Linked DNA regions of Homo sapiens: all the other regions are linked to region 2. The links come from fine-mapping of genetic effects on gene expression. A gene starts in region 2. Each other region holds a variant in brackets. All regions are shown on one strand. Distances are between the middles of the regions.

Region 1 (8,185 bases), 100 kb after region 2:
GAAAAGAAAGAGAGATCAGATTGTTACTGTGTCTGTGTAGAAAGAAGTAGACATAGGAGACTCCATTTTGTTCTGTACTAAGACAAATTCTTTTGCCTTGAGATGCTGTTAATCTATAACCTTACCCCCAACCCCGTGCTCTCTGAAACATGTGATGTGTCAACTTACGGTTAAATGGATTAAGGGCGGTGCAAGATGTGCTTTGTTAAACAGATGCTTGAAGGCAGCATGCTCATTAAGAGTCTTCACCACTCCCTAATCTCAAGTACCCAGGGACCTCTGCCTAGGAAAGCCAGGTATTGTCCAAGGTTTCTCCCCATGTGATAGTCTGAAATATGGCCTCCTGGGAAGGGAAAGACCTGACCATCCCCCAGCCCAACACCCGTAAAGGGTCTGTGCTGAGGAGGATTAGTATAAGAGGAAGGCATGCCTCTTTGCAGTTGAGACAAGAGGAAGCCATCTGTCTCCTGCCCGTCCCTGGGCAATGGAATGTCTCGGTATAAAACCCGATTGTATGTTCCATCTACTGAGATGGGGGAAAACTGCCTTAGGGCTGGAGGTGGGACATGCGGGCAACAATACTGCTTTGTAAGGCATTGAGATGTTTATGTGTATGCATATCTAAAGCACAGCACTTAATTCGTTACCTTGTCTATGATGCAGAGACCTTTGTTCACGTGTTTATCTGCTGACCTTCTCTCCACTATTATCCTATGACCCTGCCACATCCCCCTCTCTGAGAAACACCCAAAAATGATGAATAAATACTAAGAGAACTCAGAGGCTGGCGGGATCCTCCATATGCTGAACGCTGGTTTCCTGGGTCCCCTTATTTTCTTTCTCTATACTTCGTCTCTGTGTCTTTTTCTTTTCCAAGTCTCTCGTTCCACCTAACGAGAAACACCCACAGGTGTGGAGGGGCAACCCACCCCTTCAGTTATGATTTTCACTTTGTGTTAGGTCAGATTTTTGCTGTTTAATTTTGTCAAGAGAATTTCTAAGGTTAGCCATGATACTATTATATGTCTTTATTTTAATTTGGTCTGTCTATAAACACAAAGAAGGCAATTGTTTAGAACCAAGCAACAAGAGTTGAGATGACAAAAGCCCACAGTGATGGGACTTTTAAGACAAACTCCCCTGAGAGCTTGACACATTCATAACAAAAAGTGTGCTGCTTAAAATCTTACATGTCTCACGTCCCAGCCATTTTCAGACTGGTCACCTTATATGACCTGAAAATCATGCCTCATAGATAGTGGAGACCAAGAGAGAGTGCTCCCACTTTGTCACCAGCCACACTTTCAAGGATATAAAACAAGATGAAAGGGGAATCTCATATGGTTTTTATTTTGGGGGCCCACAACAAAGTTTATATGCTGTTCTGGTCAGAACTACAATTCTGACAAGTCCGCAAGGCTGGCTGGAAAAATGGGCTTATAAAGGCTTTAGGCCTATGTTCTACCTCATGCTTGGTACCCTTCTTTATGACATAACAACACGGAAAGACAAAGAAAGAAAAAGTTGATTTCTGGGACAAAAAGGATCAAATAATATGAATACTTAAACCAAAAATTACACCAGAGTCACAACACCCAAGACTACTCACACAAATCCTTGTCTCCCATTAATCAAGATTTTGCAGAGAAAAGAGACAAACAGGGATTTTAACTGTCAACTTGATCAGATTCCACAGAAAGAGAGGCCAGAAGCTTGGCCGGTAAGAAATTCTTGTTCTTCTGGCAGCTAGTCAGGTCCTGGGTTCCCTTCACTCTGGCTTAAGAGCAGAATAGTTTTGGTATACTGCTCACAGCACCAAAACTATAGGAGCCAAGCAAAAACTTCCCCTTTGCCCTCTGAAGGTCCACTGAAAAATCAACTGATAAAAGGCAGCTTAATAGGAGAAATGGCACAGAAATTTATTAACATACCCACAAAGGAGAACCACAGAGTAATTATTCCTCATGTCATTTCTTCTTTTAATCTGCTTTTTTTGTCAGTTGACTTTTCAACAAAACTTCAGAGGGCAAAGGGGAAGTTTTTCCTTGGGCTCTATGATAGGAATTGATTCATTCGCTTGTTCATTCAACAAATATTGATTTGTGTCTACTTCATGCCAGACACTGTTCCAGGTGCTGAGGATAAGCAGGGGTGTGAGATTGGTAGGTTGGAGGCATATGAGACATGAAGCAGAAAACAAGTTCAGTGGCTATTGTAGAAATTCTGGTGAGAAATGATGGTAGCTACTAAGCTAGTAGTAGTGGGGTTGGACAGAAGGGCCACATTTAAGAGATTTTTAGGAAGAAGTTGACAGATGTTGAGAGATTGTATGTGAGTCATTAGTGAGAGGCCAGAGATCAGGATGACTTTCAGGATTCTGGCTTTGGTGCCTCAGCCTATAAGATTCGGAATACCAGAAGGGAGCAGATTCAGGAAATGAAGGGACTCTCCTTTCTTCCGTTTTGGATATTTCATTTGGTACCTGGAGCATCCAAGTAGAGTTCTTCAGAGGAGAGTTAAATTTATGGTGTTGGCACTCAGAGCAATGTTGCTTGAGTTAGAGATTTGATAGCTGAAGCCACAGGAAGAAATGAGATTACTTAGGAAAAGTGAGACAGAAGAGAAGAGAAAATTATCAAGTTTAATGGCTGGATTGAAGAAGAGAAATCTGTTTTCTTCATTTACATAGGAATAAAATGACAGAAGCCAGTGGAGAATAGAAGGTTAAAGAGGAAGAGCTTACGAGTGCCAAATGTTGGTTAGGGGCTGGGAAATCTTTCCCTTTGCCTTCTGAAGTTTTGCTGAAAATCACATATTACTAGGAGAAAAGGCATATAAATTTATTTGGTTAGAGTTGTACCTGACACAGGAGCCTTTAGAATGCGGACCCAAAGATATAGAGGAAACTGTCCATTTTTATCATTAGGTTCAACAAAGTATGGGCAGCTATGTAGAAATATGATTGGACAAAAAGGGTAAGATCTAATGCTAAAGACCGAGTGGGGAAACCTACCTAGAAAGGCCTGTCTGTCTAGATTCTTCTTGGCATCTCTGAGCATGGATTTCATTCTGGATATGGGGCAGGATGCTCTCTGGAATGAGGGTCTTTAGACCTGCAATCAAACAAGGTAGGTCAAATAATTTTTTTTATGGCTGATTTTTACACAAAAATGTTGGGGGAACGTTAGGATAATACTTTTAGGTTTTATGCCTGGTGTTGGGGAAATGGGGTTCTAGTTTCTATGACCTGCCTTGAGGAAGAAAAATTCTAGTTTCTAAGGCTAGCCTTGGGAGAATGAGGGGCCAGAGGCAGGAGGATAGAAGGTCAGAGAGACTTGCTTTTGAAGCCTTTGTATTGGAGTATTGTTTTTCTGACAGCCTACAGTTGCAGAGATGTGAAATAATAGTAGGATTCTGAAGAGTCCATGAAAGTGCACCCTTTCCTGAGATTGAGCACTCTAGATGCTGCAGTGGGTGTATCCTGCCTGAGGCCATTAAACTAATGAATAAACCACTTCTGGGAATCTAGTGCTAAGCAATCTTCTTCTTATAATTTTATTATCCATCTAAATTTGCATATTGGGAGGAAAATAATAACAATAATAATAGCTAATATTTAGCATTTACTATGTTCCAAATGAACACTTTACATGGATTATCTAATTTAATTATCTTATATAGAGGTAGATCAGCAGGACTTGTTTTCCAAACACTGGTCACAACCTTGCTAATCAAAACAGGAGGCATTAAATAAATCAGCTAAATCAGCTAAAACCAAGATGGCAACGAATGTGATCTCTAATTGCCCTTGATCTGTGTTATACACTAATTATAATACATTAGCATGCTAAAAGATACTCACACTGGTGCCATAACAGTTTACAAATGCCATGGCAATGTCCAGAAGCTATTATATGGTTTAAAAGAGGAGGAACCTTTGGTTTTGAGAACTCCTCATCCTTTTCTAGGAAATTTATGAATAACCTGCCCCTTATTTAGCATATAATTAAGGAGTAGCTATAAATAGAGTTAGTCAGCAATCCATGAGTGCTACTCTGCTTATGGGGTAGCCCTGCTCTATCTATGGAGCAGCCATTTTCCTGTATTCTGTTGCTCTTAATAAACTTGGTTTGCTTTCACTTTACTCTGTTGGCTCACCCTTGAATTCCTTCCTGCATGAAGCCAAGAACCCTCCTGGGCTGAGCCCCAGTTTTGGGATTCACCTGCATCATCTTTCCTGGAACCCATGAAGGGATTAACAAGCCGAGGGGAACTGCAGGAGACCTTCACTGGACGCCCCCCTACTAACATCAATCAGCACCATTTGCCCTCCATGGATAGGTGTCTCCTTTGTTTCCCCTGCTATTTGGGCAATTGTTTCTATGTTATATGAGGTAGGACAGTTTCCTTGTTTTGCATTTTTTTCTTTTTTTTTTCTTTTTTTTCCAAGACATAGTTTTGCTCTGTCACCCAGGCTGGAGTGCAGTGGCGTGATCTCGGCTCACTGCAAACTCTGCCTCCCAGGTTCAAGCAATTCTCCTGCCTCAGGCTCTTGAGTAGCTGGGATTACAGGC[G/A]TGCGCCACCATGCCTGGCTAATTTTTGTATTTTTAGTAGAGACGGGGTTTCCCCATGTTGGTAAGGCTGGTCTCAAACTTCTGACCTCATGATCCACCTGCCTCAGCCTCCCAAAGTGCTGGGATTACAGGTGTGAGCCACTGCGCCTGGCTGCATTTTTTCTTTTGTTATTATGAGTGATCCCCCATTGTGCTGACTTTGGAATGTTGGAGTCATGCTGTTCTGTGCCCCCAATTGTTTTGGAATTGTCCCCATAGGATTGTGGGTGAGAATCCCACCATTGAGGACCTTGGGCTTGTGCCTTTGGGGTTCACTGTTGTCTGCCTCCAGGTTGTTCTGGGATGTGTAGCATTTGATGTGGGGGACCGTCATTGGTTGATGCCTGGATGCTCCAGGTTTTTCAGCATTAACTGCTTTTGGCCCTCTAAGATTGTGGGTTAGAGTCCCACTCTAGAGGGATCTAGGTATCCCCTCTAGGATTGTGGGTTAGAGTCCCATCCTTGGGGGATCTTGGTCTCATTTTTTCTTGTTGTCTTTGTCATCCCATTTTTTCTCCAAAATGCTTTCTTCACTTTTTGTGGAATTCAGACTATAAGAATCCTATTTCCTTATTTTAATCTCTCCTTCAATAATTTGCTTATTAAAACTCCTCTTTTGGCCGGGTGCGGTGGCTCAAGCCTGTAATCCCAGCACTTTGGGAGGCCGAGGCTGGCGGATCACGAGGTCAGGAGTTCGAGACCATCCTGGCCAATGTGGTGAAACCCTGTCTCTACTAAAAATACAAAAAAATTAGCCAGGTGTGGTGGCGGGCACCTGTAGTCCCAGCTACTCAGGAGGCTGAGGCAGGAGAATGGCGTGAACCCGGAAGGCGGAGCTTGCAGTGGGCTGAGATCGTGCCACTGCACTCCAGCCTAGGGGACAGAGCCAGACTCCGTCTCAAAAACAAACAAACAAACAAACAAACAAAAACTCCTCTTTTGTTGCATTCCATTTGCTAGTGGATGCAGCCATCCATCTCTCTACTGTCCACTCATATCTGATAATTCATTTTCGTTATGCCATGGTAACTGTACTTATGCCTTCTTTGCAGGAATTAGTGGTGATTGCCCTACTGACCTTTCTTGAGGGAAAAGGGAGGTAGGCATTTGAAAGAAAAATTAACTAGGCTCTTGATAGATTTAGAAAAACTTCTGTGTCTAGTGGAGATCCTTGTTAGACATGGGGACAATGGCAAGCATCTCAAAGGACTTGCTGCTAGGGTGTCAAAAGCAATTGGATCAAATTCAAATTCTCTTAAAGAGAAAGAGACCGATTTTCTTTCTTTTTTTTTTTTTTCATGGAAGAAAAACTTTAATTGCTGTTTTAAAAAACCTCTGTATGAGGTAGAAATTGGTTTCAATAATATTAGTAAAGAATATGTTCTAGAAAGTGGAGGTAACTGGATGTAAAATTCTGGCAGCAATTTAATAGAACAGTCCTAGACGGTTAGGCTGAGTCCAACACCTAATGAGGATGAAAGCTTTGTCTGTGGGGAATTTTGGATGATACTTGGAGAAATATTACACTGTGCATAAACCAAATTGAATTGCTTTCACAAGTGTTATAAAGTTTCATATAGTAAAAGGTTTTTTCTACATGCACTTCAATTTCACAGCAAGAGTGGCAGAGAATACCTAAACACAGAAGCGAACATTCGTGCAAGATATCTATTTCCTTGATATAATAATGCATACAATTCAAAATGATTACACTATCATTACATATAGGGCTTTATGCAACTACACTGTGGTGGTTATGGAAAGCACTGACCCCAGCATCGACATCTAGAAAGCATCCACCACCTTCTTACGTGTGTTCTCTTTTTGCATTTTTTTCTTCATTTTTCTTAATCAACTCTGCTGTTATTGCTGCTTCTTAGCAAAACTGGTAAAAACAAAATTGTAATCATTGAACATAGCACTCTGGCAATCAAGACGCTTAAAACCTTCAATCTTCTGAGGTGAAGAAAACACGGCGCGACATTTAGAACTCTGATTAACAAAGTGATCACAAATTTTCCTGGCTTGAAGCCTTCCATAGCTTTCCTGATCAGGTCATCATAGGAGGTGGCTTAAGTTTGTTTCAAAGCTAACATAAAAAGATTCTGGTTCTGGAGTGATGTGAATAGTCCAATAAGTTCCATCTGATTTCATTCCATTCATCGAATACCCATAAGGATTGAACATTGTGGCATTAATGACAGAACCTGGTATCAGGTTGTGAATTCCACTCTCACAAATGACATCCTTTGCAGTAACGCCATCTTTCATGTAGAACTGGTCCATAACTGCTGGGTCAAGCCCACTCATCAAATTTTCCAGGGTTTGATCTGGCTGACTGATTACCTTTCTGGGAAATCCAGAGTACGTAAGTACCAACAGTCAGAATTCATACTTCCCATACAATATGCTGCTCCATTTGGGAAAATTGCATTAAGAAACTCTATTTCTTCCTGGAAATTCTAGTGTAGGTACCCTTAGGGGGAAGGCTTCATGAAATTCTCACAAGAATAAAAGAAGCTTTGAATTGAGTCAAACCCACTGTAATGCCTAGCAAGCTTCAACAGGGGAACCAGCGCTTTCAGTAAGAGAGTGGTACCACGTGTCTTCAAAATGAAACGTTTCTTGGAGACAAACATGCTACTCTCACTGAGTACACAAGCTTCCTGGTTGTCAGTTTTTGTCACACTTATCATTGAACGTTGCACATCCTTCAAAAGTATGTCCCACTTGGCCGGGCGCGGTGGCTCACGCCTGTAATCCCAGCACTTTGGGAGGCTGAGGCAGGCAGATCACGAGGTCAGGAGATCGAGACCATCCTGGCTAACACGGTGAAACCCCGTCTCTACTAAAAATACGAAAAATGAGCCGGGCGTGGTGGCGGGCGCCTGTAGTCCCAGCTACTCATGAGGCTGAGGCAGGAGAATGGCGTGAGCTTGGGAGACCGAGGTTGCAGTGAGCCGAGATCGTGCCACTGCACTCCAGCCTGGGCGACACAGCGAGACTCCGTCTCAAAAAAAAAAAAAAAAAAAAAGTCCCACTCAGATCTTGGGATAGTGCGAAGATCCCCAGATCCTTGGTTTGCATTGGGCTGCTGCCAGGAGAACCAAACCTCCAGCCGCTTCTCGGTCCCTTCGGAAAAATGTACAGCTTCCATCACCATGAGACTGGCGAACAATCAACAACCACAGAAAATCAACTAAATTAAACCTTTTCTTCTGCTGCTGCGGCTGCCGCGGCTGCTGTGAATTGTTCCAGCTGTGTTAGAAAAGTTCAGGTTCCTTTTTTTTTTTAAAGACTAATAAAATGACCGGACGCGGTGGCTCACGCCTGTAATCCCATCACTTTGGGAGGCCGAGGCGGGCGAATCACGAGGTCAGGAGATCGAGACCATCCTGACCAACATGGTGAAACCCCGTCTCTACTAAAAATACAAAAATTAGCTGGGCATGGTAGTGGGTGCCTGTAATTCCAGCTACTTGGGAGACTGAGCCAGGAGAATCGCTTGAACCTGGGAGGCGGAGGTTGCAGTGAGCCGAGATCAAGCCACTGCACTCCAGTCTGGTGACAGA
Region 2 (8,182 bases):
CCCAAAGCACTGGGATTACAGGAGTGAGCCACTGAGCCTGACCCAATTACAAATTTATTTTCAACCCTCATTCCAGAAGGAAGACAAAAATAAAAAGCCAATATCCACTTAACTGCAAATTTCATGATGTCCTTATAAAGCCAGTGCATTATATTTTCTTTCACTCATGAAGCAATTTTTAATAATCACAATATATATTTAAATGTTAATAATCTTACTTTTTTTTTTTTTTTTTTTTTTTGAGACGGAGTCTTGCTCTGTCGACCAGGCTGGAGTGCAGTGGCGCGATCTCGGCTCACTGCAAGCTCTGCCTCCCGGGTTCATGCCACTCTCCTGCCTCTCAGCCTCCCGAGTAGCTGGGACTACAGGTGCCCGCCACCACGCTCAGCTAATTTTTTGTATTTTTACTAGAGACGGGGTTTCACCATGTTAGCCAGGATGGTCTCGATCTCCTGACTTCGTGATCCGCCCGCCTCGGCCTCCCAAAGTGCTAGGATTACAGGCGTGAGCCACTGCGCCCGGCTTACTTTTTTTTTTTTTTTTTTTTGACAAGGTATCTCTGTTGCCCAAGCTGAAGTGTAGTGGCACGATCATAGCTCACTGTAACCTTGAACTCATGGGCTCCTGCTTCAGCCTCCTGAGTAGCTAGGACTACAGAAATGCACAACTATACTTGGCTAGATTTTTGTTTTTAAAGTGTTTTGTAGAGATGGGGTCTCATTGTGTTGCCCGGGCTGGTCTTCAGCTCCTGGCCTCAAGTGATCCTTCCACTTTGGCCTCCCAAAGTGCTGGGACTACAGGCAGAAACTACCACACCGAACCTACTAACTCTACATTTTACATGATGAGTTCAGATTTTAAAAGGATTAGTTTGCTAATAAAGTGTCGTGAGCAAAGTGAAAAATCAAAAGATTACTTGAAGTATTTACATGATGATCCAAATTTAAAGCGACCTCAACAAGCAAAATTTACTGTTTACAAAAAACTGTATCACGGTTTACGAATAGGAACACATATATTATATATAATGGGTATAATGCGAATGCATTTTACCAATGGAAAGTACAAAACAGCTTGCTGATGAAAGAGGAAGGAAAAAGCTCACAGTGAACTTGGAAGCAGATCCTTCAGCCCCAGTCAACCCTTCAGATGTCCGCAGCCACTGCCGACATCCTGACTGCAACTTCATGAGACCCTGGGCCAGAACCGCCAGCTAAGTCTTGACCCCACAGAAAGAATAAAATTATTGTCTACTGTTTTTTGTTTGTTTGTGTTTTGTGTGAGATGGTTCCTCGCTCTGTCACCCAGGCTGGAGTGCAGTGGCATGATCTCGGCTCACTGCAAGCTCCCCCTCCCGGGTTCACGCCATTCTCCTGCCTCAGCCTCCCGAATAGCTGGGACTACAGGCGCCCGCCACCACGCCCGGCTAATTTCTTGTATTTTTAGCAGAGACGGGGTTTCACCCGTGTTAGCCAGGATGGTCTCGATCTCCTGATCTCGTGATCCGCCCGCCTCGGCCTCCCAAAGTGCTGGGATTACGGGCGTGAGCCACGGCGCCTGGCCCCTACTGTCTACTGTTTTAAGCCTCTAAGTTTTGGTGTAATTTATTACACAATAGATACGTAGAAGAGAACTATTTCTATTTTTAAGGAAGGTATAATTGCAGTTCCAGAACCCCACATTTCTGGCATCTATTCTACTCCAACTTTTGGTGCAGATATTTAACATCTGGCTCAGAGTCTGAGTATTAGAAAAAGAGAAATTTACTAAGTGTTCTTCCTGTATTACTTATTGTCTCTGAATAATACACCTAAGGGTACCCATTTTTCTTCTTAAACTTTTTATTTCCTTTTCCACTTCCTATTCCTCCCCCTACAAATAAAACGGACTCCCGAACCTCCTTTTACATATTCACTTTTGTTGATAAGGTTCCTTAAGAGTAGTGATCTCTTTTAAACTTGTCATGTTTAAAAATCCAGTGTGCTCAAGGTATTTAATAAATATTCCATTTTACTAATACAAGAGATAATCACATAATAAATCCGCAGCCTATGAACTAAAGATACTGTTTGGGATAGCTTCTCTGACATAACTGACATATTATAAATTCCTCCCTATGACTCGCAGAAGCCATTTTCTGCAATGGCCAAACTTTGTCACACCCCATCCCCCTTATAGCAAATACCACTAACTTTGGGGCCTTCAGAGTATACATAACAGTACTTTTCTCCTTCCTGAATTCCACAAACATATAATTAGCTGGTCACTTTAATTATACGCTATCATGTATTGTTTGCTAATAATCTCTTAGACATTATTTCTGTCAAAACAAATAAGAGCTGATACATTCTCTAAGTAAGTGTCATCTGTTTTAACTTTCCCTCTTCCCCACCAACCTTACACATTATATGCAAAAACCCAAGGTCAAAACACGGTCCAAATTCCAGAAACCGCCTTTATTATGCTTTACCAGTAAGTCTTCTTCACTGAACTGTAGTTGCTGTAAACTTAATATATTTAATTTCTTTAATGGAAAAATATCAAAAGCAGATGCCAAATCTGATGCAACTAACTGACAAAGGAAACACAAATCTTGCTTACTTTCACTGAAACTTTTTATAGCCATCAGATGTCTGCACTTAAAATGTTTAGTTCCTATGCCCATTACGAATAAAACAAAATTCTGTATTTCAACATGTTTCAAGCCTCAGAAGTTCCCAGACATCCTTTTCTGAGTCTGGTGTGATGCAATAATTTTTCAAATGTCATTTAAAAAAATGGGCCAGGCTGCAGGGAAAGGACCATGTCACACTCTCAGCATTCAAGCCTCAAAGGCTCCGGGGCACGAAAGGCTCTTACAACCGGTTAAGGACGGCAATGGGCTCCTTCGGCACGACTCCCGGAACCCCACCCTGGGCCAGAAAAAGGCCAGGGGCGCGGAGCGTAGGCGGAGGGCTGGGGTTCTAGGGATCTAGAAAAAGCGCGAAGCCGGAGGGCGGCGCCAGGGCTCCTCGCAGACCCCAGGGCCGCGGGACGGTGCCGGCTCGTGGGTCACACGCACCCAGGAGGCTCCTGGCTCCCGCGTGGCGGCTGTTCCAGCACGCCCTCCGACCCGCAACCGGACCCTCCAGACATCAGACTCAGTGGTCCCCCACCTCCGGTCTCCCACCTCAGGACGCAGTTCCGCGGCGTCCACCCGGCCCCCTCCCCTCAGTCCCACGCAGCGGCTCAGCCATACCCACCCCGGCTTCTCTGAGTTCAATCCAGCAGCAGCTCGAGCAGCGGCTCCGCCCCTCGGTCGGAGCCATAGAGACGTCGGCTGCCGGCCAGAGTGGCCTCAGACCGCAGCGTCGGCCGAGAGGACGCCGGGATACTGGCCAGCTCCAAGTCGAAAGGAAGCGACGCATGAGTTGTTTGGTGCGGTGGGTAGATACCTCGAGTTTCTCCTCGCCCACCGTAGGCCCCGACCCCTAAAAAGGAAACTTTTGGGACGTCAGAGTGAGAGGAGAAAAGTGTCTTTTTAGTTTAGTTTTGTCAAACCTGAGGATTCGTTTTTCAGTTTAGCCGGAGCTGTGCCGCAAACGTAGCTGCCGACATCCCCACGACGCACCCAAGTGGTGGCCCGGAAGCTGGGGATAGAAAAGTGGCCTCCCCGAATGCCAGGCACACAGGCCTTACTACCAGAAGCTTGAGCTGGGAGCCTCGGCCGTCGCATCTCTAAGGTGCAGCGATACGGCCAACTTCCTTCCGCGAAGCCCTCAGGGTGGGCAACGGAGCTTTTCACCAGACTGAGGGACCGGGCGACCTGGCCGACCGGCGGCTCCTCACCGCCCCCTTGGGGATTTCTTGATAATTCTTTGCCACGATGCGGGCGGATGTTGTGGAGCTACTGTTTGTAGATCGCAGTAGCGTGACAGCACTTAATCATGACTACTAAATCCTCAGAAGTCGAAAAAGCAAGTCCATACAGAATAGTTTGACCCTAATTAAATTGCGCTTACAAGATACAGTTTGTTTACTGGGACTTTGGCTAGGTCCCATCCCGTCTCTGCCTCAGAGTGGTGGTTGCTCTTAGCACCAAGGAAATACCAGCTTGACATTTGACTCTAGGAAGCACAGGCCCAAAAGAAGAGGCCCAAGGAGGGACATTCTTCTTTCCCTTTCCTACCTACAGTTTCTCAAACCAAGTGTCAGATGGAAAGCAAGGGGTGGTATCATCGTAATTATACAGTTGACCATAGAAAATAAATTTCAATCTCAAAGTAAACTCCTAGGCCACCCCCAGAATCTTAGAGTTTCTCAATCATAGAACTCATTTCTTGTCACAGTCTTGGTTCTTAGCCAATGTAAAACACCCAACTGACAGGGAAAATTAAACACCTTTTAACTCCCACACACCTTAAATGAGAATTTAAAGTATCTTTCAGCAAATGTATTTATAATTTTGAGTGCTTTTAGCCATGTTAAGGACAAATTTTCTCCTTCTGAATGCAGTAATAATTTGGCATTACCCTTTTGGCAGTGTGGTACAAAGTCTTATAATCTAGGCTTTATGGAGCTATTGAGGAACAACATAGATGGCTTCATGCAAACCCAAACAATGTAATAGTAGTTCTTTTCTCTGTAGTCGGTCTACTGCCTGTAGATGTTTATTCCTTTTTTTTTTTTTTTTTTTTTTGAGACAGGGTCTCCCTCTGTCACCCAGGCTGGAGTGCAGTGGTGCAATCATAGCTCACTGCAGCCTTGACCTCCTGGGCTCAAGGGATTCTCCGGCCTCAGCCTCTGGAGTAGCTGGGACCACAGGCACATGCCATCGTGCAGGTAATTAAGTTTTTTGTAGAGATGGGCATCTCGCTATGTTGCCCAGGCTGGTGTTAAAGTCCTGGGCTCAAGTGTTCCCCCCTCCTTGGCTTCTCAAAGTGTTGGGATTACAGGCGTGAGCCACTGTGCCCAGCTTACTGATTCATTTATACAAACAGAGTGCTCTCAGTGTGCTACAGAATGACTATGGAGCTCAAGTTCTAGTGGAGGGTGTGAGCCACAAGGAAACAAGCTAGACAGATTGTAATAAGTACTATAAAGGAAGTAAATAGGGTGATGTAATAGACTTGGGAGATGCTAACTTTAGTCAGGTAGTAAGGAAGGCCCTTTTGAGGAAATGGTACTTGTTTGAGAATTGAAATGTGAAGGAATCCAGTGTCAGAGGAACTAAAAAAAAAAAAAGGCATTGTGCCCCTTTAACTTAGTGACATTATCATTCCTGATCTACACTCTTCTCCCCATTTTTCTCGTTTTCTCTGTTACTGCTTCCCGTTTATTTGAAGAGCCAGGTCTTTTATAGAAATCAGAAAATTAGAACATTTCTGGTTGTGTTTGGTGTAATCTTGACGTCATTATAGATATTTGGTTTTGTTCTTTCTTAATAGACAAGCTTATAATAAATAGCACTTTTGGTGAGCTCATTTCTGTTAAACACTTTGCAGCATAAATCTTTTCCTGTGTTCAAAAGAAAGTATCTGGTTCATGAGACAGTTTAGATACAGTCTTTGCCAAAGTGCCTGATTTTTAGTTTACAATGTTGCTTGTCTCCGTTTTTGTTTTTGAGATGTAGTTCTTGTCTCATAGCTCTACTGAAAAATACTTGGAGTAAAGGGACCAAATAGCAAGTGAACAAATGCACAATTCTGCATATTAAAAAAAAAGAGGCTGGGTGCAGTGGCTCACACCTGTAATTCCAGCATTTTGGGAAACGGAGGCAGGAGGATAGCTTGAAGCCAGGAGTTCAAGACCAGCCTGGGCAAGATAGGGAGATTCCTGTCTCTACAAAAAAAATTTTTAAAAATTAGCCAGGCATGGTGGTACATGTCTGTGGTTCCAGCTACTCAGAAGGCTGAGGTGGGAAGATCCCTTGAGCCCACAAGTTCAAGGCTGCAGTGAGCTATGATTGCACCACTGCATTGCAGCCTGGGTGACAAAGCAAGACCGTATCTCAAACAGTAAAAACAAACAAAATGAAAAAACCTGAAGATTAATAGTGAATGCTCCACAAGATAAAAACAGCAACAACTTTATAATGTTACAAATTTTTTTTCTTGTTAATCTGAAATAAGAATTAAATGTGAAACGTTCAAAACTTCGAAATATTTATTATTAAGATATAAATACATATTTTAAAAATGTACAAGTTAAAAATACCTTCAAAGTTAAATGTCAGTTCTTTCACAATCATTGTGCCGGGGTAATACGTACAATATCTTGGCTTACTAGTAATTTTATACCAGTCACTTGAAACAACATCCTTAAACTTTAATAATATGTTGTAATAATTCCATTTTTCACTTTTTAGAGTTTGATAGAAGACAGTCAATATCGTGAAGGATTTCAGAGGTTTTTTTCAATGCTATTGATACTCTATTTTCATTAACTTCTCCTAGCAAGGTTTCTGAAGATCCTGGTTTATAATGATCAAAAGACTGTTGTTCATTTTTCTTGTTAGAAATCTGGTTTAGGATACCACTATTTTCTAGTAGCACTAAGTTGCTTAGTTAAGGAGGTTTTCCCCACATTTTTCACTATATAAATATCTTTATATACAGAAAGCATAGGCTTCATATTAAAATATTTCTCAGCTGGAAGACCTCTTGGATTCATAATACAGTTGGAACTGCAAGGCTTATCAAGTCTGCTCCTTGTAGATGAAGAAACTAATTACAGTATAAGGGAGGGGGAAAGAGAATAGAGTGTGTATGTGTGTGTTTGGGTGGAGGTTTGGTGGTAAGGAGGAAATGAAAATTTCAGTAACATTTCTTTAAGTGAAGAAATGACACGGGAATTAAAGAGTAGGATGACAGGATTATAAGGAATCTGTGTAGTGTCTATTTTTAATTTAAAAAGATTTAGAGTGAAAAACCTGTTCGCTATAGAACTAACTTATTTGAATAAGATTAGAGAAAAACCACAAGAGAAAACAAATTTAGATGAATTGGGTGAGAATGTACAGAATGAAATATTTCATTTAAAAAAAGAGGTCTTAAACAGTTATAATTTTATTATATAATTATGTAAGTGAAAAAGTCTCCAAAGGAGACCTTAACCCTAATTAACTGTTCTTTGCCCAATTTAAACTCAAAGAAAAGTATAAATGTTAACATGCTATACCTTCTATGGACAAGATCCATCTTAAATTACAATCTTAGGTATTTGCTGACTCAATAAAGGTTAGCAATATATTAAGTATAGATTAATATTCACAAAGTACTGAAGTCATGAATTAAGCCTAGAATGAAAGAGAGTAATTATGTAGGACAGTGCATTCTGTTTAAAGGATACAGTTAAACTTCTGTATCTTTTCAAGTTCAGAAGCAACAGACCTGTCCAAGGAAAAAGAAAAAATTCATTCAGTTGTCTGATTCTTTTGTATTCATGATATTTCAAATAAGCATACCTGACTTTTTTTTTCATTAGAATTTTAAACGGAAGAACGCAGAAGAATTCTCTTTATGTTACCTTTATTTAGCAACAAATCAACTTGACTCAACTGATACTTACTGAGTGCCTTTAAAGGTAAGTGAATAAAAGTCTACCCCTTGTAAATCCACTTCAAGGAATTTGTAATCAAATATTGATGTTTGAGGATAATGGGCCTTCCTGTTACTTCTTAGTACTAACCTAGCTTACACTCTACTTTCCTCCCTAAAGTTTACGCAAACTTTACAAACCTATTAAAATCCCATTCCTTCTGTGAAAGAACTGCTCTCTCCTTCCTTGAATTCCTATAGCATATTAATTAATCACATACTTATTTGTAATATCTTCTCTTGAACTATTTAACTTCCTGCTCTTCCTACCTAGATTGTTTCTCTCAGAAGAAAGGATTTTTTACTTTTCTGTACTTGTGCATATATTAAGACCTCATTTATATGGAACTCTTTGGGAATGGATGGTATGGGAGATCCAAGTTTTTAAATAGTTGAATTACGTGTCAAAACAACTATTTTTTATTAAATTCTTTCTGGAATAGACTACCTACTTATTTCATTGTTTTTTTAAGCACAGAGGGTTAACATGATGAACATTAGCTCTTATACCATGTTCTATAGAAAGATAGTGGGACAACTGGTATGGAGTAGAGGGCTAATATATACGTCTCCAGCAGAACCCCTAAGTGTGTGTTCTTTATCCT
Region 3 (8,167 bases), 240 kb after region 2:
ATATAGATCAATGGAACAGAACAGAGCCCTCAGAAATAATGCCACATATCTACAACCATCTGATCTTTGACAAACCTGAGAAAAACAAGCAATGGGGAAAGGATTCCCTATTTAATAAATGGTGCTGGGAAAACTGGCTAGCCATATGTAGAAAGCTGAAACTGGATCCCTTCCTTACACCTTATGCAAAAATCAATTCAAGATGGATTAAAGACTTACATGTTAGACCTAAAACCATAAAAACCCTAGAGGAAAACCTAGGCATTACCATTCAGGACATAGGCATGGGAAGGACTTCATGTCTACAACACCAAAAGCAATGGCAACAGAAGACAAAATTGACAAATGGGATCTAATTAAACTAAAGAGCTTCTGCACAGCAAAAGAAACTACCATCAGAGTGAACAGGCAACCTACAAAATGGGAGAAAATTTTTGCAACCTACTCATCTGACAAAGGGCTAATATCCAGAATCTACAATGAACTCAAACAAATTTACAAGAGAAAAACAAACAACCCCATCAAAAAGTGGGTGAAGGACATCAACAGACACTTCTCAAAAGAAGACATTTATGCAGCCAAAAAACACATGAAAAAATGCTCATCATCACTGGCCATCAGAGAAATGCAAATCAAAACCACAATGAGATACCATCTCACACCAGTTAGAATGGCAATCATTCAAAAGTCAGGAAACAACAGGTGCTGGAGAGGATGTGGAGAAATAGGAACACTTTTACACTGTTGGTGGGACTGTAAACTAGTTCAACCATTGTGGAAGTCAGTGTGGCGATTCCTCAGGGATCTAGAACTAGAAATGCCATTTGACCCAGCCATCCCATTACTGGGTATATACCCAAAGGACTATAAATCATGTTGCTATAAAGACACATGCACACGTATGTTTATTGTGGCATTATTCACAATAGCAAAGACTTGGAACCAACCCAAATGTCCAACAATGATAGACTGGATTAAGAAGATGTGGCACATATACACCATGGAATACTATGCAGCCATAAAAAATGATGAGTTCACGTCCTTTGCAGGGACATGGATGAAATTGGAAATCATCATTCTCAGTAAACTATCACAAGAACAAAAAACCAAACACCGCATATTCTCACTGATAGGTGGGAATTGAACAATGAGATCACATGGACACAGGAAGGGGAATATCACACTCTGGGGACTGTTATGGGGTGGGGGCAGGGGGAAGGGATAGCATTGGGAGATATACCTAATGCTCGATGACGAGTTAATGGGTGCAGCGCACCAGCATGGCACATGTATACATATGTAACTAACCTGCACAATGTGCACATGTTCCCTAAAACTTAAAGTATAATTAAAAAAAAATAAATTAAAAAAAAGTTATGTTTACACTAAACTATAGTCAACTAAGTGTGTAATAGCATTATGTCTTTAAAAATGTACATACCTTAATTAAAAATACTTAAATTGCTACAAAATGCAATTATCAGAGCCATAAATGAGTCATATATATATATAGTTTTTTGCTGGTGGAGGGTCTTGCCTTGATGTTAATGGCTCCTGACTGGTCAGGGTAGTGGTGGCTGAAGATTGAGGTGATTGTGACAATTTCTTAAAATAAGACAACAATGAAGTTTGCTGCATTGATGGACTCTTCCTTTTATGAAAGATTTCCCTGTAGTATGTGACGCTGTGTAATAGCATTTTACTCTCATAGAACCTCTTTTCAAATTGGTGTCTGAAACCCTGCTCTTTCTTCATCAACGAAGTTTACTCTAAATCCTTTGTTGTCATTTCAACAGTGTTTACAACATCTTCACCAGGAGTAGATTCCATCTCACTTTCTTTGCTCATCCATAAGAAGCAACTCCTTATATGTTAAAGTTTGATCATGATACTGCAGCAATTCAGTCTCATCTTCAGGCTCCACTTCTAACTCTAGTTCTCTTGCTATTTCCATCACATCTGCAGTTACTTCCTCCATTCTGCCTTGAACCCCTCAAAGTCATCCTTTAGGGTTATAATCAACTTCTTCCAAACTCCTGTTAATATTGATATTTTGACCTCTTCTCATGAATCATGAATGTCCTTAATGGTATCTAGAATGGTGAATCCTTCCCAGAAGCTTTTCAATTGACTTTGCCCAGATCCATCAGAGAAATTACTATCTATGGTAGCTATGGTCTTACAAAATGTGTTTCTTAAATAATAAGATTTGGAAGTCAAAATTACTTCCTGACTCATGGGCTGCAGAATGACTCTTGTGTTAGCAGGCATGAAATAACATTAATCTGCTTGCACATCTCCAGCAGAGCCCTTGGATAAGTAGGTGCATTGTCAATAAGCAGTAATAGTTTGAAAGAAATCTATTTTTCTGAGCAGTAGTTTTCAACAGTGGGCTTAAAATATTCAGTAAACCATGCTGTAAACAGACGCACTGTCATCCAGGTTCTGCGGTTTCATTTCTAGAGCACAGGAAGAGTAGGTTTAGCATAATTCTTAAGGGCTCTAGAATTTTCAGAATGGTAAATGAGCATTGGCATAAACTTTAAGTCACCACCTGCATTAGCCTCTCACAAGAGAGTCAGCCTGTCCTTTGACGCTTTGAAACCAGATATTGATTTCTCCTCTCTAGTTACAAAATTCCTGGATGTCATCTTCTTCCAGTAGAAGGCTGTTGCATTTATATTGAAAATCTTTTGTTTAGCGCGATCACCTCCTTCAATTATCTTAGCTAAATCTTCTGGATAACTTGCTGCACTTTCTACAACAGCACTTGATGCTTTACCTTGCACTTTTATGTTACAGAGATGGCTTCTTTCCTTAAACTTCATGAGCCAATCTCTGCTAGCTTTCTACTTTTCTTCTGTAGCTGCTTCCTCACCTCTCTCAGCCTTCAGAGAATTGAAGAGAGTTAAGCCTTGCTCTGGATTAGGTTTGGCTTAATGAAAGGTTGTGGCTGGTTTGATCGTCTCTCCAGGCCACTCAAGTTTTCTCCATATCAGCCATAAGCCTGTTTCACTTTCTTATCATTCACGTGTTCACTGGAGTAGCACTTTTAATTTTTTTCAAGAACTTTTCCTTTGCATTTACAACTTGGTTAACTGGCACAAAAAGCATAGCTTTCAGCCTGTCTTGGCCTTCAAGATGCCTTCCTCACTTAGCTTAATCATTTCTATCTCTTTACTTAATGTGAGAGATGTGCAACTCTTCCTTTTACTTGAAAACTTAAGAGGCCATTATAGGGTTATTAATTGTCCTAATTTTAATATTATTGTGTCTTAGGTAATAGGGAGGGCCTGAGGAGAAGGCGAGAGATTGGGGAATGGCTGGTTGATGGAGCAGTCAGAACACACACAACATTTATCAATCCCAAAACGATTACAATAGTAACATTAAAATCACTGATCACAGATCACCATAACAAATATAAAAATAATATAAAAGTCTGAAATATTATGTGAATTACCAAAATGTGACACAAAGACACAAAGTGAGCACATGCTGTTGGAAAAATGATGCTGACAGA[C/A]TTGCTGAATGCAGGGTTGCTACAAACTTTCAATTTGTAAAAAAGCACAATATCTGCAAAATGCCTTAAAGCACAATAAAATGACTTATGCCTGTTTATCATCAGTTTCCTGGTGACATGGTATTTCTCTCCTGTTTTTTTCCCATAGCCACGGCCCTATTATGCTCCTGTTCCTCTTTCTATAAGGATGCTAATTACAATAGCTAACATTTGTTTAACACTGATTAAGTACCAACCACTGTCCTAAAGACTTTCAATATACTAACTTATTAATTACAGCAGAACAATCCTTTGAGTAGCTATCCCATTTTATAGATGTGGAAGCTCAGGGCCCAATTAATTAAGTAGGTGGTGGCATCAGGATTTGAATCTGGGCTGTCTGGCTCCACTCTGAACCACAACACTTTGCTGTCATAGAACTGATTTGCCAACTAACATTTAGAAAACAACTTCTTAGTAAGTTGAAACTATTTGTAATTTTTGAACTCTTTGTGATACTAAACAAAGAAGCAAAGAAATATAGTAATTGTACCAATTTGACATTTGCTTAACTTCATGCATGTGTTTGGTAGAGTCAATTTTTCAGAAAGATTTTTTCACCCTTTACAAATACAGAATCAGTTGTTTTGGTGTGGTGCCATGAGAAGGATCATGTGCTTCACTCCCAGGGTCTGTAGTACTCCTTTTTATGGGCAGGCTGCTCTTGAGTAGTTTTCCCTGTCTTTCTTCCCTCTCTTTTCCTTTCTCTCTCTCCCTCTCTCTCTCTCTTCTTCTCCCTCTCTTTTTCATGGTATAGCTGTAGTCCTCATTATCTACCTAAGCATACATATCCACATAACAAGCTACAAATTATTCAACTAGAAAACCATATTGTGGTTCGGTGTTAACTATTACTCTTTCCTTATTCAAAAATTATGAAGCTTGTAGTCTAGCCTGGTTTGGGCAGAATTTCTGTCCTCCTTTTACTTCTAGTGCTCCTCTTTTTATTGTCTGGGTTCTTCATCATCTTCTGACTCTTTTCTCTGTTCCATTCTGGCCCATGTTTCCTATACAGGTTGTTTCTTTATGGTAGAGCTGATAGGCAGAAAATTTTCTGTCTGCTGTTGCTCACAGTTTAGATTCCTCTTTTCTTTTTACTACTCCAATAATTCTGCTAAACCATATTCTAGTTCCTTTGTATCACCCAGAGTTGGTCTTTCTGATATGCTTATCTTAAAAAAAATTAAAATAAAATATAAAAATTACTGATTATTAGAGACAGCACAGCTGAAGCTGGATAATAATCTAGGAATACTAAGCATGTAGTTTTTGAATTTTAATTGTTTTACTCTAAATTGCATAAAATTTCAAAGTTTTTTTAAAAAAACAAGAGTACTTAACATTAATCTAATATTAGCTTATCTTCTCTATCTAAAAGTTATTTTCTTCCCTTTACCAATCAAAGCCCTCTAATGGGTACTTTTGCTCACATTCTGTTTGCTCCTTAAAAATTTTTTTTTTGGTCCCTACCTTAATTATTTAACTGAAATCACTTTGGAAAGTAAACAATAACCTCATCACCAAATACATATCTCAAATGCATTTTCTTGCACATTTCTGTAACATTTGACACCACTGACAGACTATTCTGGGCATCTCCTCTCTAAGCTACTAATTCTTTAATTAATACAGTCTATGATAACATGAACTCTTTTGACACTTCTTTTTCTTACAATGAACTTAACTAAAACCCTTCATCTTTTTCTACACATGCTGCTGATGTGAATCCATTTCTCTCCCATTTACACATGTAGTTTTTTTTTTTTTTTAACTTGACTCATTTGAGCCCATTTTCTATCCTCTGAGATCAGGTTTCTGATTCTGTTTCATCCAATGTGTTGACTGTTCCTTCTAATTTTGTGTCACCTGCAAATACAGCATCAATTTTCTCACTGGATTCACTGAGGGAAAAAAGATGTCATCATTTTGTAGGGCTTAGGCTAAAACTGGGCAACATGCATTCCAAGCTCTTCTCCAAGGCTGACTCTGATCTGTTAATCTGGGTACTTTAGGTAGAAACAACTGTGTATATTGAACTCATATTTCTTCACTTTTTGTCCAGAAAAATATCTTAGAAGCTTTGTCAAATATCTTCTAAAAGCACACAAAAATAAGAAACTGACTAACGTAATAAATACACAAACCCAGAAATGAGTTAGTTCTGGTAGGACTTGTTTTCTATGAACTAATTCTGATCCATACTCAACATGGTTCCCTTTAAAAATTCTCATAGTCTAAGATTTTAATAATTTGTTCTGGAATGTAGCTGAAGATGATTAACAGTCCAGTCCATCATTTGCACTATCCACTTCTTGCCATTTTTGGTCAGGAATATATTTGTAACACTTGTAACACTTTTCTAGTTTGTCTTGATTCTTTAAAGATGGCTGACTACAGATTCCGTCAGCTCAAAGCATGCTCTGGAATTATGCTTGGAAATAGCATGTGAAAGTTTCATTTGAACGCAATTTAGAGGAGTTATGAGGTCCTTTGTAAGGGTCTTTTTTCCATCTAAGTTTCACTCTCTTTTACAGGAAACAGAGGAAAATGGGATTTGAGATCAACTTTCTCTCTGCTACTTACTATGACATCATCTACCATACTCCAAAGATGTGCACATCTCCTGCTCTCATTTTTCGCTAAATATGATTTTAAGGGCGAAGTTTATTGTTTTTTTCCACAGCCTTGAGCTCCCTTTGTGCTTTTGCTTTTTTTGACATTATTCTTAAGCCTCTTTGCCACTTTTTTATATGGTTCTTGGTTATTAATCCTTTTGTCATCATTGTTCACTTCATCTTAAGGTTTGAGATACTAGAAATGCTGCACACTGTCTCTCTTGCATAAAACATATCTATAGACATCAAGTAAGTTTTTTTTTAAAATTAGAGTAAAAACCTAAAAACATCTTCAATGCAATTTGAATGCAGAATTCTTTTAGTTTTTATGATTTTCCTCAAATCTTTTATAGTTGTTTCACTCCAACCTGATTTGACAATAGTACTTAAACTTATATTTTATTGGTTGATGTATTATTTAATTAAATTGTGTAATTAATATTGTGTGACTGCAAGTAAATCTTGCATGAACATGTTTGGAAACAAAACCCAGTTGCCTCTTGTTAAGCATACAATTAGCTGGTAGCAACAGAAGTCCACGAGCATTTTAGAGTAGCCTACTAGCCCAAAGCATTCAGTATACAGTGGGAATTAATCAATATATTTTACAGATGCAATGAAGAGCTTCAGTTAATGTAGTGAGTTGGTTAAGTGGAGGCTGGCTAAAAGAGTTTCTGCTGTATAATAAGATGTGCTTCTTGATCTACAATAAATTGCAAAATAGTAGCCAATTCTATCTGAATTGATTAATTCTACTATACACTATACACTATCATAATACCTGTAATACTTTATTTCCCTAACATCTAAATCTACTAAACTGTGAACTTCTTGAGGGCAAGTGTTGTCCTCAATAGATGGTTTGGTGAATATATTTTTAAAAACATAGCACGAGAAATGAAAAGGAAAAGGGAGAGAGCAAAGGGTGGGCTGATACAGAACAATAAATTTCAAAAACAATTCTGCAATATTGGTACCATAAAATTTATCACTTAAATGCTATCTGATAACTCATAGTCCCTGGTAGTGGGAAGGCCAATAGGGGTTGGAAATAGAAAGCAAGCTAGTTCTCAATATCTGCAAATTCAAAACAATAACAACTTTTGAATGCAAATTTTAGCCCTGTCTATAACGTTTCATTGAACACATCTCATTCTGTTTTAGAACAATGAAAAAATGGTATTGTATTGGGCTTTGTTAATACAAAGTAAATAGTGATTCCCATGAGAAACTATTCTGTAATTATTCTGTTTTTTCACTAGATGGTGCTTGTGAGCCAATGAGAAGAAAAATATTTGAGTTTATGGTTTATTCACTTAAGGGGAAATGAGAAATTTGTGAATTAAATAGAAAAAGACAATGAAAAATTAGAACACTTTAAGACAGACCTTTATAGTTAAGTTAAACTACTTGGAGAAAACCTCATATTACTTTCTGGTAACAATGTTAAACTCTTGGAAGAAAAAAATACTCATTCTCATTAAGACGATTACAATCACCAAATTCTGAAAGTTTTGTGGGCTGACTGTACAATCCTAATGAATTAAAAGATTTTCTTTACTCTCCTTAAAATACAACATTACCTTTGGTTGGGGGCAAAATCATTTAAATTGTTACCATGATGAGATTATAGCTTCATTACCTAATGTTATCTTGTGAAATGGGTTGTTGTCTAGATTTCTAATGCTGTCTGATAGGCAATATTCCTTTACTTTTATTCAGGGACATCAAAGAGTAGAGGTTAAAAGGAAAGTCTCTGGAGTCATACTACCTGGGTTTAAACCCCAGATCTGCCACTTACTAGCTGTGTAATCTTGGCAGTTCACCTCCCTAACCTTCCTTTCCCTCATCTTACAAAATGCAGTTGTCATAATTTCTACCTCATAAGATTGTTGTGAGTTAATACATGTAAAAGACTTAGAACTGTGCTTGGCACATTAGTAGGTATTTAAAAAATGTTAGCGATCATAACATTTTTCATGTTTCACTT

Which allele goes with the higher level. Alleles are on the strand shown, and positions count from the first base shown. SD is a standard deviation of normalised expression in the study named.
For the expression in subcutaneous fat of the gene that starts at base 3,340 in region 2, G is the low allele of the variant in region 1 and A is the other (large effect, 1.5 SD a copy in GTEx).
As copies of A replace C in region 3, the expression in sun-exposed skin of the gene that starts at base 3,340 in region 2 goes down (small effect, 0.35 SD a copy in GTEx).

What was found. PIP is the estimated chance that this variant, and not a neighbour inherited with it, causes the effect. A credible set is the group of variants that fine-mapping cannot tell apart.
Region 1: its variant is the best candidate, but not a certain one, in a credible set for the expression of C5orf34-AS1 in subcutaneous fat (GTEx, PIP 0.64).
Region 3: its variant is the best candidate, but not a certain one, in a credible set for the expression of C5orf34-AS1 in sun-exposed skin (GTEx, PIP 0.81).

What each region holds. Positions count from the first base shown.
Region 1 is chr5:43,580,454-43,588,638 of GRCh38, forward strand. It overlaps NNT-AS1 (NNT antisense RNA 1), which reads right to left. Exons shown (of 3, transcript NR_073113.1): 2 at 3,014-3,113. It also overlaps the pseudogene AMD1P3. Among named protein-coding and RNA genes, the nearest start is that of NNT, 19 kb to the right of the region's middle. RefSeq lists an enhancer at 39-785. The variant G/A (reference allele first, on the strand shown) is at 4,575.
Region 2 is chr5:43,480,580-43,488,761 of GRCh38, forward strand. It overlaps C5orf34-AS1 (C5orf34 antisense RNA 1), which reads left to right and starts at 3,340. Exons shown (of 3, transcript XR_007058763.1): 1 at 3,340-3,422; 2 at 7,465-7,563. It overlaps TMEM267 (transmembrane protein 267), which reads right to left and starts at 3,286. Exons shown (of 3, transcript NM_022483.5): 1 at 3,243-3,286. C5orf34 (chromosome 5 open reading frame 34) reads right to left here. Exons shown (of 13, transcript NM_198566.4): 12 at 7,330-7,370; 13 at 6,130-6,532. The coding sequence ends at 6,336. RefSeq lists a silencer at 3,141-3,371 and enhancers at 3,317-4,160, 3,426-3,615.
Region 3 is chr5:43,722,616-43,730,782 of GRCh38, forward strand. No RefSeq gene overlaps it. Among named protein-coding and RNA genes, the nearest start is that of NNT-AS1, 120 kb to the left of the region's middle. The variant C/A (reference allele first, on the strand shown) is at 3,524.